2 separate regions of the Homo sapiens genome follow, and region 2 is linked to region 1. The links come from fine-mapping of genetic effects on gene expression. Tissue or cell type: whole blood. Region 1 holds a variant in brackets; the other region holds the start of a gene. All regions are shown on one strand. Distances are between the middles of the regions. Region 1 overlaps PARP4 (poly(ADP-ribose) polymerase family member 4). Region 2 holds the start of PARP4 (poly(ADP-ribose) polymerase family member 4).

Region 1 (9,356 bases):
ATTTAGGATATGATACAAGTAGATCTTATCTCTGTGGAAGAAAGACAAGTTCTTCAATACTATCTATAGAGATAAATGGGTAACCACAAGGAAAAAATACAAAGTTGGACCTTTACCTCATTTCTCATACTTTAACTCCAGACAGAGCAAATATTTAAATATTTAAAATCAAACCATAAAAGTATACTAAATGAAAAATGGGAGAATCTTCTTAAAATAATCTTTAAGTAGGGATGAGCTTTCTAAGTAGGACCAAAACCCAAAAGCTATTTTACAAAATTCATTCAATCTCCTAATGTGAAATTCAAACAATAGATGTTTATATAATAAAAGGCAGAAATTTCCCTTGTGTTTCCGGAAACAACCATGGCTTCACCCTGATTGCAGAGTTCTCTGAATGCCAGAAGTTCAGTAGGAACCTGCCAAAATTCTGAGCAAGGAAGAGATGCAGTCAGTGTTGGGCTTACACCTTATCCTGCCCTTCTCTTTTCAGAGGGTTGCTTTTACCCAAAGTAGTGGAAGATCGTGGTGTGCAAAGAACAGACGTCGGAAACCTTGGAAGTGGGATTTATTTCAGTGATTCGCTCAGGTATGTTCGATCCTTAATCACAGAATCGTTACTGAATACTTGCTGTGTATTTTCTTCTGTCTTTCCTTGGTGAGGGAGTTTCTCAACCAAAACACAGATTTATCTATTATATATGACCTCAATGTGGCTGGAATACTATTTCATCTTCAGCATCCTTGATAATGTTTAAATCTGCCCTTATGCCAGACATGGTGGCTCGTGCCTGTACTCCCAGCTCTTTTGGAGGCCAGGGTGGGAGGATCACTTGAGCCCAGGAGTTTAAGACCAGCCTATGCAGCATAGCAAGACCCTATCTCTACAAAAAAATTAAAAAATTAGCCGTGCATGGTGGCGCTAATAGAACCTATAGTTCTAGCTACTGGGGAGGCTGAGGCAGGAGGATCACTTGAGTCCAGGAATTCAAGGCTGGAGTGAGCTATGATTATGTCACTGCAGTCCAGCTTGGGCAACACAGTGAGAAGAACCCCATGTACATCATCTGCCAACCTCATAATTGGTATTGTGACATCATTTAATGCAAGGAAACAGACTCAGGGAGGTCAGGGAACTTGCCTAAGGTTGCAGAGCTAATTAAAGGATGGAGACTGAGTTCAGGCCCAGGACAAAGGATAATGATCCAAGATATTTAAAGAGTTCCTACAAATCAATAAGGAAAAGATAAACAATCCTATAAGCAGATGTGCAAAAGACTTAAATAGAAACCTAATAGCAAAGAAGACGAGCTGGGGCCAGGCGCAGTAGCTCATGCCTGTAATCCCAGCACTTTGGGAGGCCAAGGCAGGTAGATCACTTGAGGCCAGGAGTTCGAGACCAGCCTGGCCAATGTGGCGAAACCCCATCTCTAATAAAAATACAAAAATTAGCTGGGCGTGGTGGTGTGCACCTGTAGTCCCAGCTACTCAAGAGGGTGAGGCAGGAGACTGGCTTGAACCTAGGAGGCAGAGATTGCAGTGAGCTGAGATGGTGCCACTGCACTCCAGCCTGGGTGACAAGAGCAAGATTCTGTCTCAAAAAATGAGCTGAGTGCAGTGGCACACACCTGTAGTCCCAGCTACTCAGGAGTTTGAGGCAGAAAGATTGCTTGAGTCCAGGAGGTTGAGATTAGCCTAGGCAACACAACAAGACCCCATCTCTAAAAAAAACTTTTTTTTTTTTTTTTTGAGACGGAGTCTCGCTCTGTCGCCCAGGCCGGACTGCGGACTGCAGTGGCACAATCTCGGCTCACTGCAAGCTCCGCTTCCCGGGTTCACGCCATTCTCCTGCCTCAGCCTCCCGAGTAGCTGGGATTACAGGTGCCCACCACCGCGCCTGGCTAATTTTTTGTATTTTTAGTAGAGACGGGGTTTCACCTTGTTAGCCAGGATGGTCTCGATCTCCTGACCTCATGATCCACCCGCCTCGGCCTCCCAAAGTGCTGGGATTACAGGCGTGAGCCACCGCGCCCGGCCAAAAAAAACTTTTTAAAATTAGCCAGGCATTGTGTCACACACCTGTAATCAAAGCTACTCAGGAGGCTGAGGCAGGAGGACTGCTTGAGCCCAGCAGTCCAAGGCCACAGTGAGGTATGACTGAACCACTACATCCAGCTTGGGAGACAAAGCGAGACCCAATCTCTTAAAAAAAAAAAAGAAAAGAAGAAAAAAAGAGCACTGTAGTAACAGAACACTGGAAATCATGCAGATGTCCATCGACAGTGGAATGGATCCGTACATTTTGGTGGAGTCCTACATGAAGTCCTGTCCTTCAGTTGAAACAAGTGGACTGTGGCTACACATGTCAAATGGATGAGCCTTAGGACCTTAGTGGATGAAAAGTTATTAGATGATTCCTTATACAGGCATACCTTGGAGATATTGAGGGTTTGGTTCCACACTACTGCAATATAGCAAATACTGCAATAAAGTGAGTCACACACATTTTTGGTTTCCCAATGAGTATAAGAGGTTTACACTCTAGTCTATTAAAGTGTGCAATAGCATTGTGTTTAAAAAAAAAACAATGTACATAACCTTAATTTTAACTTACTTTATTACTAAAAATCCTAACGATCATCTAAGCCTTCAGTGAGCCATTGTCTTTTTGCCGGTGGAAGGTCTCGTGTCAATGTCTATGGCTGCTGACTGATTAGGGTGGTGGTTGCTGAAAGTTGAGGTGGCTGTGGCAATTTCTTAAAATAAGACAACAATGAAGTTTGCCTCAGCAATTGACTCTTCCTTTCATGAAAGATTTATCTGTAGTATGAGATGCTATTTGATAGCATTTACCTAAAGTAGAACTTCCTTGAAAATTGGAGTCAATTATCTCAAACACTGCTGCTGCTTTGTCCACTAAGTTTATGTGATATTCAAAATCCTTTGTTGTCAGTTCAACAGTGTTCACAACATCTTCACCAGGAATGGATTCCATCTCAAGAAACCACTTTCTTCACTCATAAGAAGCAACTCCTCATTCTTTCAAGTTTGATCATGAGATTGCAGCAATTCAGTCCCATCTTCAGGCTCCAATTGTAATTCTAGTTCTCCTGCTGCTTCTGCCACATCTACAGTGACTTTCTTCACTGAAGTTTGAACCCCTCAAAGTCACCCAAGATAGTTAGAGTAAACTTCTTCCAAACCCCTGTTAATACTGATAGGCTGACCTCCTCCCATAATTCATCAAATGCTCTTAAGGGCAAGGAGAATAGCAAATCCTTTCCAGAAGGTTTTCAATTTACTTCGTCCAGATCCATCAGAGGAATCACTGTCTATGGCAGCTATAGCCTTACAAAATGTATTTTTTTCTTTTTAGAGTTGGGGTCTTGATCCATTATTGCCCAGGTGAGAGTACAGTAAGATGCAACCATAGCCATAGCTCCCTGGAACCTCAAACTGCTGAACTCAAGTGATCATCCCACCTCAGACTCCTGGGATTACAGGCATACCTGGCCAAAATGTATTTCTTTCTTTCTTTTTTTCTTTTTTGAGATGGAGTTTGCTCTTGTTGCCCAGGCTGGAGTGCAATGGTGTGATCTTGGCTCACTGCAACCTCCGCCTCCTGGGTTCAAGCGATTCTTCTGTCTCAGCCTCTTGAGTAGCTGGGATTACAGGCGCATGCCACCACGCCTGGCTAATTTTTGTATTTTTAGTAGAGATAGGGTTTCATCATATTGGGCAGGCTGGTCTCGAACTCCTGACCTCAGGTGATCTGCCTGCCTTGGCCTCCCAAAGTGCTGGGATTATAGGCATGAGCCACCACGCCCAGCCCAAAATGTATTTCTTAAATAATAAGACTTGAAAGCTGAAATTACTCCTTGATCCATGGCTGCAGATTGTAAGTTGTGTTAGCAGGCATGAAAACAACAAATTCCTTGTACCTCTCCATCAGAGCTCCTGGATGGCTAGGCGCTTTGCCAGTGAGCAGTCATATTTTGAAAAGAACCTTTTTTGTTGAGCAGTAGATCTATACATTGGGCTTAAAATTCAGTAAACCATTCTGTAAACAGATGTGCTGTCATCCAGGTTTTGTCGTTCCATTTGTAGAGCACAGAAAGAGTAGATTTAGCGCAATTCTTAAGGGCCCTAGGATTTTTGGAATGGTAAGTGAGCACTGGCTTCAGCTTATAGTCACCAGCTGCATTAGCCCCTGACAAGAGTCAGCCTGTCGTCTGAAGCTTTGCAGCCAGCCATTGACTTCTCTCCGGCTGTGGAAGTCCTAGATGGCATTTTCTTCCAATAGAAGGCTGTTTTGTCTACATGGAAAATCTGTTGTGTGGTGAAGCCACCTGCATCAATGATCTTAGCTAGATCTTCTGGAGAACTTGCTGCAGCTTCTACATCAGCACTGGCTGGTTCATCTTCCATTGTTACGTTATAGAGATGGCTTCTTTCCTTAAACCTCAGCCAACCTCTGCTAGCTTCAGGCCTTCTTTCTGCAGTTTCCTCACCTCTCTGAGCCTTCATAGAATTGAACAGAGTTGGGGCCTTGCTCTGGATTAGGCTTTGGCTTAAGAGAATGCTGTGGCTGGTTTGATCTTCTATCCAGACCATTAACATTTTCTTCATATCAGCAATAAGGCTGTTTTGCTTTGTTATCATTCCTATGTTCACTGGAGCAGCACTTTTAATTTCCTTCAAAAATTGTTTCTTTACATTCACCACTTGGATAACTGCCACAAGAGGCCTAGCTTTCAGCCTGTCTTGGTTTTCAACATGCCTTCCTCACCAAGCCTAATCATTTCTAGCTTTTAATTTAAAGTGAAAGATGTACAACCCTTTCTTTCACTTGAACACTTAGAGGCCGCTGTAGGGTTATTATTAATTGGCCTAATTTCAATATTGTTGTATCTCAGGGAATAGGGAGGCCAGAGAAGGAGGAGAGAGATGAGGGAACCACTGGTCAGTGGAGCAGTCAGAACACACAAAACATTTGCCAAGCCCACCACCTTGTATGGGCACAGATTGTTGCAGCCCAAAACAATTGCAATAGTAATGCATCCAGAATTGGTGGGTTCTTGGTCTCACTGACTTCAAGAATGAAGCCGCGGACCCTCGCGGTGAGTGTTACAGTTCCTAAAGGCGGCGTGTCCAGAGTTTGTTCCTTCTGATGTTCAGATGTGTTCGGAGTTTCTTCCT[T/C]CTGGTGGGTTCGTGGTCTCGCTGGCTCAGGAGTGAAGCTGCAGACCTTCGCAGTGAGTGTTACAGCTCTTAAGGCGGCGCATCTGGAGTTGTTCGTTCCTCCCGGTGGGCTCGTGGTCTCGCGGGCTTCAGGAGTGAAGCTGCAGACCTTCGTGGTGAGTGTTACAGCTCATAAAGGCAGTGTGGACCCAAAGAGTGAGCAGTAGCAAGATTTATTGCAAAGAGCGAAAGAACAAAGCTTCCACAGTGCGGAAGAGGACCAGAGCGGGTTGCCACTGCTGGCTGGGGCAGCCTGCTTTTATTCTCTTATCTGGCACCACCCACATCCTGCTGATTGGTAGAGTAGGGTGGTCTGTTTTGACAGGGCGCTGATTGGTGCGTTTACAATCCCTGAGCTAGACACAAAGGTTCTCCACCTCCCCACCAGATTAGCTAGACACAGAGTGTCCACACAAAGGTTCTCCAAGGCCCCACCAGAGTAGCTAGATACAGAGTGTCAATTGGTGCACTCACAAACCCTGAGCTAGACACAGGGTGCTGATTGGTGTGTTTACAATCCCTGAGCTAGACATAAAGGTTCTCCACGTCCCCACCAGACTCAGGAGCCCAGCTGGGCCCCCTTTGCCAGAACGTGGTGAGATAGGAAGGAATAGAGAGAGCTCCAGGGAGAAGTCCAGAGTGGGGTTTAATGAGAAGGAAGAAAGCATGCTTGTAAGTTGCAGGAAAAGAGCCCTCCAAAGGGGAGAGGATTTTAGAAGGAATGGGGGAACTGATTTTTTTTTTCAGTAGGTGAAACAAAGAAGGGTCGTCTGGCCATACTTCGGCATTTTGAACTTAATCTTTAAAAAACAGACATGCGTCTCCAAAATGTTGTGTCCAAAGGTGTGTCCTAGTCTGTGCTCCTAATAGCAAGAGTTGCCTTATTAAAGCTGCTGATTCCCAAAGAAAGATAAAACAACATTTCTCATTTGGATATAATTTGAAATGTTTGTTTTTCCTTTCAGGAGGCTTTGTGAGAGCTTGTCTTTCCCTTTGACCAGTTCTTACTCACTTGGTACCCACGGTTCTTATTCCTTTCTGAGCTTTAGTGCAGAGAATTAAATCTACTTTTTCCTAATTAATAAGGTGGTGATTTTTCCTTCTCTTTACCACCCTGGTATTTATGATAGTAAAATGTGTATATTTTAGTAGCTAACAAAGATTTAGGAGAACAGTAGAATTCATTTCTCTCTGGAAACAAAGTGCTTTGAGCACTGCCTAGCACAACATAAGGGCAGTATACATATTTGTCACATAGAAATGCGAAATAGGCCAGGCATGGTTGCTCATGCCTGTAATCCCAGCACTTTGGGAGGCTGAGGAGGGAGGATCACTTGAGCCCAGGAGTTCGAGACCAGCCTGGGAAACATAGTGAGACCCCATCTTAGCAGAAAATTTTAAAAGTTAGCTAGGTGTGGTGCACATCTATAGTCCCAGCTACTCAGGAGGCTGAGGCAGGAGGATCAGTTGAGCCCAGGAGTTGGAGACTGCAATAAGCTATGATCATGCCACTGCACCCTAGCCTGAGTAACAGAGCAAAATTCTGTCTAAAAAAAAAGAAGAAATATTAAATAAATAAGTGCATAATAAAGTTCTAAATTGAGTCTTTGGAGATATTTCAATAATAGGAAAATTTAGAACAGTTTACCAGGAAAGTCTTTTCAATAGTATGTTATTGACAAGTCACTCTAAGCTGTAAATATGTGTTTATTTCCTTTCGCATGTAGTACAAGTATCAAGTACTCACACCCGGGAGAGACAGATGGCACCAGACTCCTGCTCATTTGTGACGTAGCCCTCGGAAAGTGTATGGACTTACATGAGAAGGACTTTTCCTTAACTGAAGCACCACCAGGCTACGACAGTGTGCATGGAGTTTCGCAAACAGCCTCTGTCACCACAGACTTTGAGGTATTTTTATTTCAAGGAAGAAGCAAAGAGGGTCTTGAATGCTCAAAGAAAGGCCTTAGTTTTTTGCTCCTATTTTCATTAAATATGCTTAAGTTTAAATAATTGTTATATATTTACTGCATGAATTAATTCAACATTTTCTAAATTAGCAAACATGCTTTTATGAAAACATCTGCCAATACAGGTTTTTTGTTGCTTCTGTTGTTAATCACCTACTGATTTCTGTTTGCTCTAGGATGATGAATTTGTTGTCTATAAAACCAATCAGGTTAAAATGAAATATATTATTAAATTTTCCATGCCTGGAGATCAGATAAAGGACTTTCATCCTAGTGATCATACTGAATTAGAGGAATACAGACCTGAGTTTTCAAATTTTTCAAAGGTTGAAGGTAGGACAATTTTCTTGAATGCTGTTTTATGTTATTATATTTATAGACCTCAAATGTTATATTTTCAATGGAATGTATATTTGCATTTGTTATATCTATGACCTCATCCATAAGTATTTCATTTCCTTTCAATCTCAAAATTGTTTCCCACAAATTTCTCTCAGTGTTAACATCAGTCAAACCCCTCTGCCTAGTATCAAAATAAAGCACTTAATTTTAAAATATATATATTTCTTTTTTTTTGAGACAGGGTCTCACTCTGTCCCCCAGGCTGGAGTACAGTGTGTGATCAAAGTGCACTGCAGCCTCAAACTCCTGGGTTTCAAATGATCCTCCTGACTCAGCCTCCTGAGTAGCTAGGACTACCATCCGTGACTTTTTTTTTTAGAGACAAATTCTCACTATGTTGCTTAGGCTGGCCTGAAATTCCTGGCATTAAGCGATCCTCCTGCCTTGGTATCCCAAAATGCTGGGATTACAGATATGAGCCACCATGGCCAGCCTCATTTCCTTTTTTATCTTGCGTACATAACAACTAGGATGATTGAGAAATTCCATGTGACTTCATTAACACACTGAAGTTGAGCTTATTCGCTTCAGGAATAGCCAAGGCTAAAACCTGTGGAACCTTGCTAAGATGTCATGGTGCAGAAAGTGTAATGGGGTGGGGAGAGCAGACAGCAGAGCCGCTGTAGAGCCAGGAAGCCCAGGGTTTGAGTGTCGCCCTGCCACCTTGCAGTTTTGAAACTGCATGACCTTTTGCGCTCCACCTTCTCTCCGATGGGAATGAGAGCAGTACCCGCATGACAGAATTGCTGTAAGGGCTGAAGGGGAAATTGAAGGCACTGAGTAAATTGCCATGTGTGGTGCGTGTGTTAGCCATAGTAGTGCGAGCATACAAGAGGATATTCACTTCTCAGAGTATCATGAGGCCAAACAATTACAGTATTAATTAGTAGGACTGTAAGAACACATTAACATTTTTGACCATGCTCAAATTATTTTTTGTCAGAAACGCATGAGTTCATGTGTGTTCAGGGGTGACTCCAGTTTTTTCTCTGGGAGTCATTAAGTGAAATATCTGGCAAGACAATATGTATTTATATTTCCTAACCTTATCTGTATGTTTGTGCCACTTAGAATAGGATGTGTACATTTTTCAATATGCTGCCATAGGAGTTGATTCAGTCTTCCTTGGATTGAAAATCTACGTTGTTTGATGCCATCCCAAAATGCTTGTGTGGCACCATAAATAATAGTGACCGAGCCCTTCCACACTATAAGCCAGGGAATGCAGACACCTGGATTCAGGCTTCAGCCACACTTCAGACAGTCTGAAGACCTCTGTGTATTTGTGTGTATGTTTAAATGTATGTCAAGTAATGCTGTGTTTTCAGGAGGACACCCCACAGTCTCTACATTAAAAAGGCAGAAGAGCACATGTCTGTAGTCGCAGCTACTCGAGAGGCTAAGGCAGGAGGATTACTTGAGCACAGGAGTTCAAAACCAGCCTGGGCAACATAGTGAAACTCCAATCTCTACCAAAGAAAAAAAAAAGAAAAGAAGAAAAAAAAATTTAAGCTGAAGGGTCTTTAAAAAACAAAAAAAAAGGCAGGCCAGGTGTAGTGTCTCACGCCCATAGTCCCAGCACTTTGGGAGGTCAAGGCAGGTAGATCCCTTGAGTCCAGGAGTTCAAGACCAGCCTGGACAACATGGCTAAACCTCATCTCTACAAAAAATACCAAAAAATTAGCTGGGCATTGTGGTGCATGCCTATAGTCCCAGCTACTCGGGAGGCTGAGACAGGAGGATCAC
Region 2 (9,356 bases), 32 kb before region 1:
TTTTTAGTAGAGATGCAGTTTCACCATGTTGCCCAGGGTGGTCTTGAACTCCTGAGCCCAGGCAATCTGCCCGCCTCGGCCTCCCGAAGTGTTAGGATTACAGGCATGAGCCACCATGCCCGGCCAAAATCATGAAATTTTTTAAATTCCAAAGTGACCTTCACATAGATTTAAGTAACAGTATATTTAGATGCTGCTTCTGTGCAGACAGTGTGGGCACGGCAGAGCTGCAGCTGCCTAACTCCTATTCCACGTGTGAGAACATGCAGGAGTCAACTCTGCAGCCCTGCAATCAGCACATTAGACCTGGAGCACCCACACAGACAGTGATGCGAATGATCTGAGCTGTTCCCTAGTTATCAAAACCCGCCCTTTAGATTATCCTTAAAATTTTGGTATCATTGGTTGATGGAATACAGGCTGACTTTTCCTTCTGGCATGATCTCAGCTCACTGCAACCACCACCTCCCCAGTTCAAGTGATTCTCCTGCCTCAGCCACCTGAATAGCTGGGACTACAGATGTGCACCACCATGCCCAGCTAATTTTTGTATTTTTAGTAGAGATGGGGTTTTACCATGTTGGCTAGGCTGGTGTCAAACTCCTGACCTCCAGTGATCCACCGCCTCAGCCTCCCAAAGTGCTGGGATTACAAGCATGAGCCACCACACCCAGCCAAGAGTTCACAACTTTTCATTGTTGGTCTGATGGTAGCAAGTGTCCACTCTGTCCAGAGAGGACATGTCAGGTGCAGTGGCTTACACCTGTAATCCCAGCACTTTGAAACACTGAAGTGGATCATTCGCGCCCAGAAGTTTGAATGTTAGCCAGGCATGGTGGCATGCACCTGTAGCCCTAGCTACTTGGGAGGCTCAGGCAGGAGGATCACTTGAGCCCAGGAGTTTAAGGTTATGATCACACCACTAGACTGCAGCCTGGGCGACAGAGTGAAACCCCCAACTCTTAAAAAGAAAAAAGAGAGAACATAAGTGCTAGCCTGGCCAAGGGATGATCCCCAAGCCCATGTCTTCCAGGCCAGAAAGGGGAATTCTAACAGGTTGGGAAGATGCACTGAGAGATGCATGTGTCTGGCCTCTAGGCAAACCCAAGAAAACCCACATCCTCCTTCACCTGCAGGAAGAGTGAAGGAGTTCTTCACCAAGGCCTGAAACCTCAGATTTCCAGAATTACTTCTGGAAAGTTTCTAACAACAACCTTGGGTGCTGAGAGACATTTTTTAAATCTTGGCAGTTTGATATAGGTAAATCTATTGCTGGTGCATTGGACTTACAACAAAACATCCTGGAAACCTAATGAGTCTATACAGCAAAGGGATTATCACATCCACTACATTCTAGAATGCCTGACCAATGATGAATGAAGTTGAATAGATAGTAAAGGATTTCTAGCTTGAATCTTTGTTGTAATAAGAGCAGAACAATACCATAATAGTTGTCACACCTGTATTTTTGCTTTCTTCAAAAATAGCAATAATTATATAGTAGTTGGATGGTTCTTCAAGCATTCTATAGGTTTTTATTACACATTTTTTTTAGATGGGATGACTCTATCACCCAGGCTGGAGGGCAGTGGCACAATTACAACTCACTGTAGCCTCAACCTCCAGGTCTCAAGTGTTCCTCCTGCCTCAGCCTCCTAGGTAGCTGAGATGACAGGCACATGCCACCATACCTGGCTAATTTTTGCATTTTTTGTAGAGATGGGTTTTCACCATGTTGCCCAGGCTGGTCTTGAACTCCTGGGCTCAAGCAATCCACCTGCCTCAGCCTCCCAAAGTGCCAGGATTACAGGCATGAGTCACCGTGCCTGGCCTATCATTTCTTGGAGGAGAGTTTTAACAGATATAGAATTCATGGTTGCCGGTTTGTTTGTTTTCTTTCAGCACTTTATATCATCCCACTGCCTTCTGGCTCCCATGGTAATAGATTGGCTGTTAATCTTATTCAAGTTCCTTTGTATGTAGTGATCATTTCTGTCTAGCTGCTTTTAAGCTTCTCTCTGTCTTTGGCTTTCAACAGTTTGATTATTAATATAACTCTATTGTGGACTTTTTGAGTTTATCATACTTGAAGTTCATGGAGCTTCTCTGAAGTGTTACATTATGTATTTTAACAAATTGGGGACTTTGGAGCCACTGTTTCTTCAGATACTCTTCCTGCCACCTTCACCCTCATCTTTCTTTCTGGGACCCCCTTTATGCATATGCTGATACACTTGATGGTGTCCACAAATCTTTTGGACTTTGATCTTCATTCTTCTACTTTCTGCTCCTCAGAGTTAATAATTTCAACAGTTTTATCTTCGAGTTTGCTCATTCCTTCTCTTACCTGCTCAAATCTACTCTGGAGCATCACTTGTGTATTTTTCATTTAAGTTATTGTATTTTTTTCTTTTTCTTTTCTTCTTCTTTTTTTTTTTTTTGAGACAAGATATTGCTCTGTCACCCAGGCTGGAGTGCAGGAGTGTGATCTTAGCTCACTGCAGCCATGAACTTCTTGGCTCAAGTGATCCTCCTGCCTTAGCCTCCTGAGTAGCTAGGGCCACAGGCATGCACCACCATGCCCGGTTAATTTTGTAATTTTTTTGTAGAGAGGGGATCTCCCTATGTTGCCAAGGCAAACTCTTGGTCTCAAGCGATCCTCCCGCCTTGGCCTCCCAAGACACTAGGATTACAGGCATGAACCACCATGCCTGGTCCTATTGTACTTTTTAACTACACAATTTCTTTTTGGTTCTTTTCAGTTCCAAAATGTGTTTGGTTCCTTTTATAATTTCTATCTCTTTATTAATATTCCTTATTTGTTTTTTAAATAATTTCAACTTTTATTTTAGATTCAGAGGGTACATGTGCAGGCTTGTTACCTACATATAATTCGTGGTGCTGAGGTTTGGGGTATGACTGAGCCCCTCACCCGGGGACTGAGCATAGTACCCAATAGTTTTTCAACCCTTGCCCCTCCCCCTCCCTCCCTGTCTAGTTGTCCCCAGTGTCTATTGTTGCCATCTTTATATCCATGAGTACCCAGTGTTTAGCTCCCACTTACAAATTAGAACATGTGGTATTTGGTTTTCTGTTCCTTCATTAATTCACTTACGACAATGGCCTCCAGTTGCAGTCACGTTGCTGTGAAGGACATGATTCCATTCATTCTTTTTATGGCTTCGTAGTATTCCATGGTGCAAATGTACCACATTTTCTTTATCCAGTCCATTGTCGATGAGCACCTAAGTTCATTCCATGTCTTTCCTATTGTGAAGCGTGCTGTGACGAACATACTAGTGCATGTGTCTTTTTGGTAGAATGAGTTCTCTTGTTTTGAATATGTACCCAGTAATGGGATAGCTGGGTTGAATAGCAGTTCTGTTTTCAGCACTTTGAGAAATCTTCAAACTGGTTTCCACAGTGGTTCAACTAATTTACATTCCCACTGACAGTGTATAAGCATTTCCTTTTCAATAAAGCCTTGCCAGCATCTGTTGTTCCTTGACTTTTTAATAATAACCATTCTGACTGGTGTAAGATGGTATCTCATTGCAGTTTTAATTTGCACTTTTCTGATAATTAGTTATGCTGGGCTTTTTTTCATGCTTGTTGACCATTTGCACATCTTCTATTGCATATTCTCTATTTATTGAGACTTTGTTCTCCTGGTTGTTTCTTTCAGTTATTTTTCTATGTTTCCTTTCACTTTTTGTCCATGTTTAAGACAGTTTATTTGAAGTATTTGTCTAATAATTCCTATGTCTGTGCTTCCTCAGCTCAGGGACAATTTCTGTTCATTTCTTTTTTCCTTTGAATTGGCCATTTTTTCGCCTTTTTTTTTGCATGCCTCATAATTTTTTGTTGAAGATTGGACATTTTGAGCATTACGATGTGGTAACTCTAGGAATCAGTCTCTCTCCTCCCCCAGAATCTCTTGTTGTTTCTTAGACAACCCTATAGAGTAGGTTGTAATGATGAAACTTGGTAAATTACCTTGTCCCCAGCCCCCTTGGTAATAAATTGTGGAGTCAGGATTCAACCCCATACCCTTTCCACTGTATTCTCTACTCTATCCTTTCTATTCTCATTTTATTCAGTATCCTAAAAATCTGAATCTTCCCCATTGCTTTATTCCCATTTCAGTGAATCTCAGATCTGTATCTCCAGCCCCCTGCCTCTCTTGAATGGCAGATAAATATATTTCCAACTAGTTACACTGTCACGAATTTCAAACGCAGGAAGGCTTAAAGTAAATTTATTATCTCACTCTCCTGTTTCCACGAACTTTCCCGAAATTTTCTTCTTTCCCGGCCTTGTGAATCCCTTCCATTTCTCAGTTAAAGGACAGCACCATCCACCCACCTCTCTCAAAGCCGAGCTTTGTATTAATCCTCATTGACAAAATCCCTCCTGAAATATGAAACTGAAAGCCCTGAACCCTCCGGCTGATCTTGGAAGAGAAACCCCGCCAGAGGCCGGGGACCCGCTCCCCACCTGGCGGACCCGATTCCGGGCGCGTTCCGGCTATCGTCCCTGCTTGGGACGCTGCGCCCGCCTGGTGCGGGGCGGGGTTCCGGCGCAGTGGCGCCCGCCCAGCCCCGGGGGCAGGGAGAGCCTAGATTACGGAAGTACCGCGAGCAAGGAGCGCGGAATCGGGGAGCGTCCGGAGCTAGCTGGATCCTCTAGGCAGGTGCGTGGGCGCTGCGGGGTGGGGGGCTGCAAAGGTCCCTGTAGTCCTAGCCAGGAAGTGGCCCGCGTACTACTTTCCCGCCAGTGGCTGCACCCTTGCCCTGCGCGGCGTTGGCGCTGTGGGCCTGACGGCGCTGCTAGGCTCGGGAGTGGACTAGCTAGTGCAGCCAGCGCCCTCGGGGAGGGATATTGCGGTCGTTCCGCTCTGCCCCGCGGCGCAGCCCTGGTGACGAGAAACCGGGTGCGGTGGGGGGCGCCCACCGGAGCCGACAGTCACACCAAGTCTCCGCACCCCGTGCGGTGCGGTTCGCAGTAGCACGCGTTGTTTCTTGTTTCCAGTATGCCAAACGGCCTTCTTTCCTAAAGTTAGGTTTCGAATTGTGCAAAAAGTAAGGTGGTTTGGTGAGTAATCAGGAAGTACTATCTGACCTCGTGAGTCATTGGGAACACCGTGATAGAAACAATGTGTTTGTTGAGGTCCAAAGTTGAAAACCTCTAACTCAGTTAAGTAATTCCTGCTAGGAGGGCCGAATGGTTCACCCAGGGATCGAGTTGGTAGATCACAGGTTCTAGAAAACTAAGGCGCTGCTAAATATTCAAGCCCAAGCACTTTCAATTCTGGACTGCTGGATGACAACAATTATATGACAATATCCAAGCATAGTGCTATGATAAAGGGGAAGTTCGCTCTGAGATGTGCGTGTTGCAGACTCATTACATCTGACTTTATCATTTATTAAGTAAACATTAGGTCTTGTTTGTGTGCGTAGAGCTACTGTATATCATGTAGGAGTGAAATAAAAGTAGTACCTTTGTTGTTTAAGGGTTTAATAAACCCATTAGGGAGGTGCATTACTGATGCCATTTGAGTCCAAAATGCAAATAGTGTCAGAAGGCTTTTCTGTAATCCTGGGCTTTAATGGATACGTGAGAGTTTTTAGTAAGCAAGCTTTTATTGAATGCCCACTGTATATCAAAAGTGATCTTAGCGTGTGCTGACTCACACACTTCGGAAGGCGGAGGCTGTAGAATCAAGACTGCCCAGAAAGGGACTCCTCAGGGTTTTCCGAGAGGAGGAAATGCCAGTGGTAAAGACGAAGACCTGTGAAGCAGGAAGCCACTTGATTCCACCTACACCAATGGTTTATGGAGCAGCCAAGAGTTTGTGAGGAGGCGCGCTGAGGGTTTCTTAGGAATCGGGGCTGTTCCCTGCTGTCTTTGGGTGGAAGACACTCTGTGAATGTTATTTGGGGAAGAAGCTGGGAAGGGGGACAGGCTGGAGTGACTGTGCAGATTTGCCTTAGAGAATAACCAGCCCCTAGCCCAGTGTCCGCCACATCTCATATGTACGTAATCAGCGCTGATGAAAACATGAACTAACTCTGTGTTTAGAGAACACTTTGAAACAAGGAAGAACTAGTGGCGCATGTCGGTTAGGCGCTGTTAACCCAGAAGAGGGCTGGCATTTTACAGAGACTAGAGATGAATCTGTGGAAAGAGAGAAGTCAAGACCTGACTTGAGATTTCACGAAACCCAAAGTGCGCCTTTCCATACCTCCCACGCAGCCGCAGGTGCTAAGAACAGACCGCAGATTTATGTTTAAAATGTTTTTACTCTGGGCCGGGCGTGGCAGCTCACACCTGTAACCCCAGCACTCTGGGAGGCTGAGGCAGGAGGATGGCTTGAGCCCAGGAGTTTGTGACCAGCCTTGGCAACATAGTAAGAACCCTGTCTCTACCAAAATTAGCTGGGCATGGTGGTGCAGGCCTGTGGTCCCAGCTACTAAGTAGGCCGGGTGAAAGGATTGCTGGGAGGGAGGTCGAGGTTGCAGTGAGCTGTGACAGTGACCACACCACTGCACTCCAGCTTGGGAGACAGAGCCAGACCCTGTCTCAAATAAAATAAAATGTTTATACTTTGATTTCACAACTATGTGTATGTACTTAATGCCACTGAACTGTACACACAGTTTTAAAAACTGTACCACAATTTTTAAAAGGCTAAAAAATGTTTATACTCCTTGATTCAGTAATTCCATTTCTGGCCATCAACTCTAGGGAAACTATGACAGAGATGTGGCAAAAAAATATATGTACAAGCATTTTAATTAAAGTGTATTTCTAATAGTGAACACTTTTTTTTTTTTTTTTTTGAGACGGAGTCTCGCTCTGTCGCCCAGGCTGGAGTGCAGTGGCGGGATCTCCGCTCACTGCAAGCTCCGCCTCCCGGGTTCACGCCATTCCCCTGCCTCAGCCTCCCAAGTAGCTGGGACTACAGGCACCCGCCACTACGCCCGGCTAATTTTTTGTATTTTTAGTAGAGACGGGGTTTCACCGTTTTAGCCGGGATGGCCTCGATCTCCTGACCTCGTGATCCGCCCGCCTCGGCCTCCCAAAATGCTGGGATTACAGGTGTGAGCCACCGCGCCCGGCCAATAGTGAACACTTTTAAGTAACCAAGTATCTGATGACTTGGGGAAGGATGAAATAAACGCAAAGCTTATGTAACCACTAAAAACACCTTCAAAGAATATTTAGTGACATGGGGAGGATATCACTAAAAGCTAAATAAGCTGTGAAAGTGAAAGTCCTATTTAAAAAGTAAAGAGCAACTGGCTATAACATTAAATATAGAATATTAATAATTTAGAAAATACAATGATACAAGAAATAATAACACCAAAAAAATTAAAATATCAACAGTGGGGGCTAGGTGTGGTGGCTCATGCCTGTAATCCTAGCACTTTGGGAGGCAGAGGTGGGCAGATCACTTGAGCTCAGGAATTCGAGACCAGCCTGGCCAACATGGTGAAACCCCGTCTCTACTAAAAATACAAAAATTAGCTGGGCGTGGTGGTGCGTGCCTGTAGTCCCAGCTACTTGGAGGCTGAGGCACGAGAATTACTTGAACCTGGGAGGCAGAAGGTTGCAGTGAGCTGAGATCATGCCACTGCACTCCAGCCTGGGTGACAGAGCGAGACTGGCTCAAAAAACAAACAAATAAAAATCAACAGTGGGGTTATTTCTGGATGGAGGGATCAGGTGCTTTTTTAAAAATAACTTTATTGACCCATAATATGTATGTAACTATTATGTATCCAAAAAATACTATTTAAAAAATGTATTGGGGTACAATTTACATACATTAAATTCATTCATTTTAATTGTACAATTTAGTAATTTTTCTCTCTTTTTTTTTTTTTGAGATAGGGTCTCTTGTCACCCAGGCTGGAGTGCAGTGGCATGATCACAGCTCACTGCAGCCTTGACCTCCCAGGCTCAAGTGATCCTCCCACCTAAGTCTCCTGAGTAGCTGGGACCATAGGCATGTACCACCTTGCCCAGCTAAGTTTTGTATTTTTTGTAGAGATGAAGTTTCGCCATGTTGGCCAGGCTGCTCTCAAACTCCTGGGCTCAAGCGATTTGCTCCACTTGGTCTCCCAAAGTGCTAGGGTTACAGGCATGAGCCACATTGCCTGGCCTAATTCAATAATTTTTAATAATTTACCAAGTTGTGCACCATCACTGCAGTCTAGTTTTGAGCATTTCCATCATTTTAGGTGCTTTTTATTTTTTCTTCTTAGTGATTAACTTTTAACACAAAAAAATTGTTCAAACTTTGATTCAGTAGTTCTAGTTGAGTATTATTTTCTAAGATGATTGTTGGAGATGGAAACAAGGATTTGCACATAAGGATGTTCATCATAGCTTTTTATGATACCAAAAATCAGAAATGATTTAATTTTCCAACAATAATTCATTTATGGTCCATATCTGATAGTCTCTATTAAAAATGTTTTCCAATAATATTTAATGACAAAATGCTAAAGATGCTGACTGATAACAGCGGGATAGGTAGTGTGATGTCAATTTTGATAAAAAATACAGTCTGTGGCTGGGTGCGGTGACTCATGCCTGTAATCCCAGCACTTAGGGAGGCCAAGGTGTGCAGATCACTTAAGGTTGGGAGTTCGAGACCAGCCTGGCCAACATGGTGAAACCCCGTCTCTACTAAAAATACAAAAAGTAGCCAGGCATGGTGGCAGGCACCTATAATCCCAGCTACTCGGGAGGCTGATGCAGGAGAATCGTTTGAACCCGGGAGGCGGAGGGTGCCGTGAGCCGAGGTCTCACCACTGCACTTCCGCCTAAGTGACAAAAGCGAGACTGTCTCAAAAAACAAAGTGTTATAATAGACCTAGAAAAAAGCCCAGAAGAAAAATGCAAAACAAGATGCTAACATAGCCCTAGGTTTTGAGATTTTTTTGTTTTGTTCTTTTTTTTTCTGTTATACAATTCTGTATTTTTCAAATTTTCAACAGTGACCATGAGTCACTTTTCCAGGAAACACGTTTTAAACAGGTCAGAGGATTTAACACATCCAGGACCCATCTGAAGGTGGACTTGAGCAGCCACTCCATGTCAGCCAACCTTGGTCAGCATAAGTGGGGGTGCAATTATCACATAGAGGCTGTCCTGGAAATTATTAAAGAGTCATTAAAGGCTTTTAGTGTTTTTTTTTGTGTGTTGTTTTTAATTGTCAGAGATTACGACTAGCATAGATTAACCTAAATAGTGTGGTGTAATCTCTTTTATGGTACCCCTCATTTCATCCCTCCTATCTATGCACAGATGCTAATTGAATGTGAGAGGCAGTCAACAAA

What was found.
Region 2: PARP4 starts here. The variant in region 1 is fine-mapped to the expression of PARP4 in whole blood (TOPMed, PIP above 0.99). The same link has a PIP of 0.9 or more in lung and tibial artery.

The regions. Positions count from the first base shown.
Region 1 is chr13:24,475,886-24,485,241 of GRCh38, reverse strand. It overlaps PARP4 (poly(ADP-ribose) polymerase family member 4), which reads left to right. Exons shown (of 34, transcript NM_006437.4): 12 at 494-589; 13 at 6,966-7,149; 14 at 7,385-7,541. Among named protein-coding and RNA genes, the nearest start is that of PARP4, 32 kb to the left of the region's middle. The variant T/C (reference allele first, on the strand shown) is at 5,200.
Region 2 is chr13:24,508,043-24,517,398 of GRCh38, reverse strand. It overlaps PARP4 (poly(ADP-ribose) polymerase family member 4), which reads left to right and starts at 4,621. Exons shown (of 34, transcript NM_006437.4): 1 at 4,621-4,693. All of the region lies in intron 1 of LOC105370117 (a long non-coding RNA gene), which reads right to left. RefSeq lists a silencer at 4,464-4,623.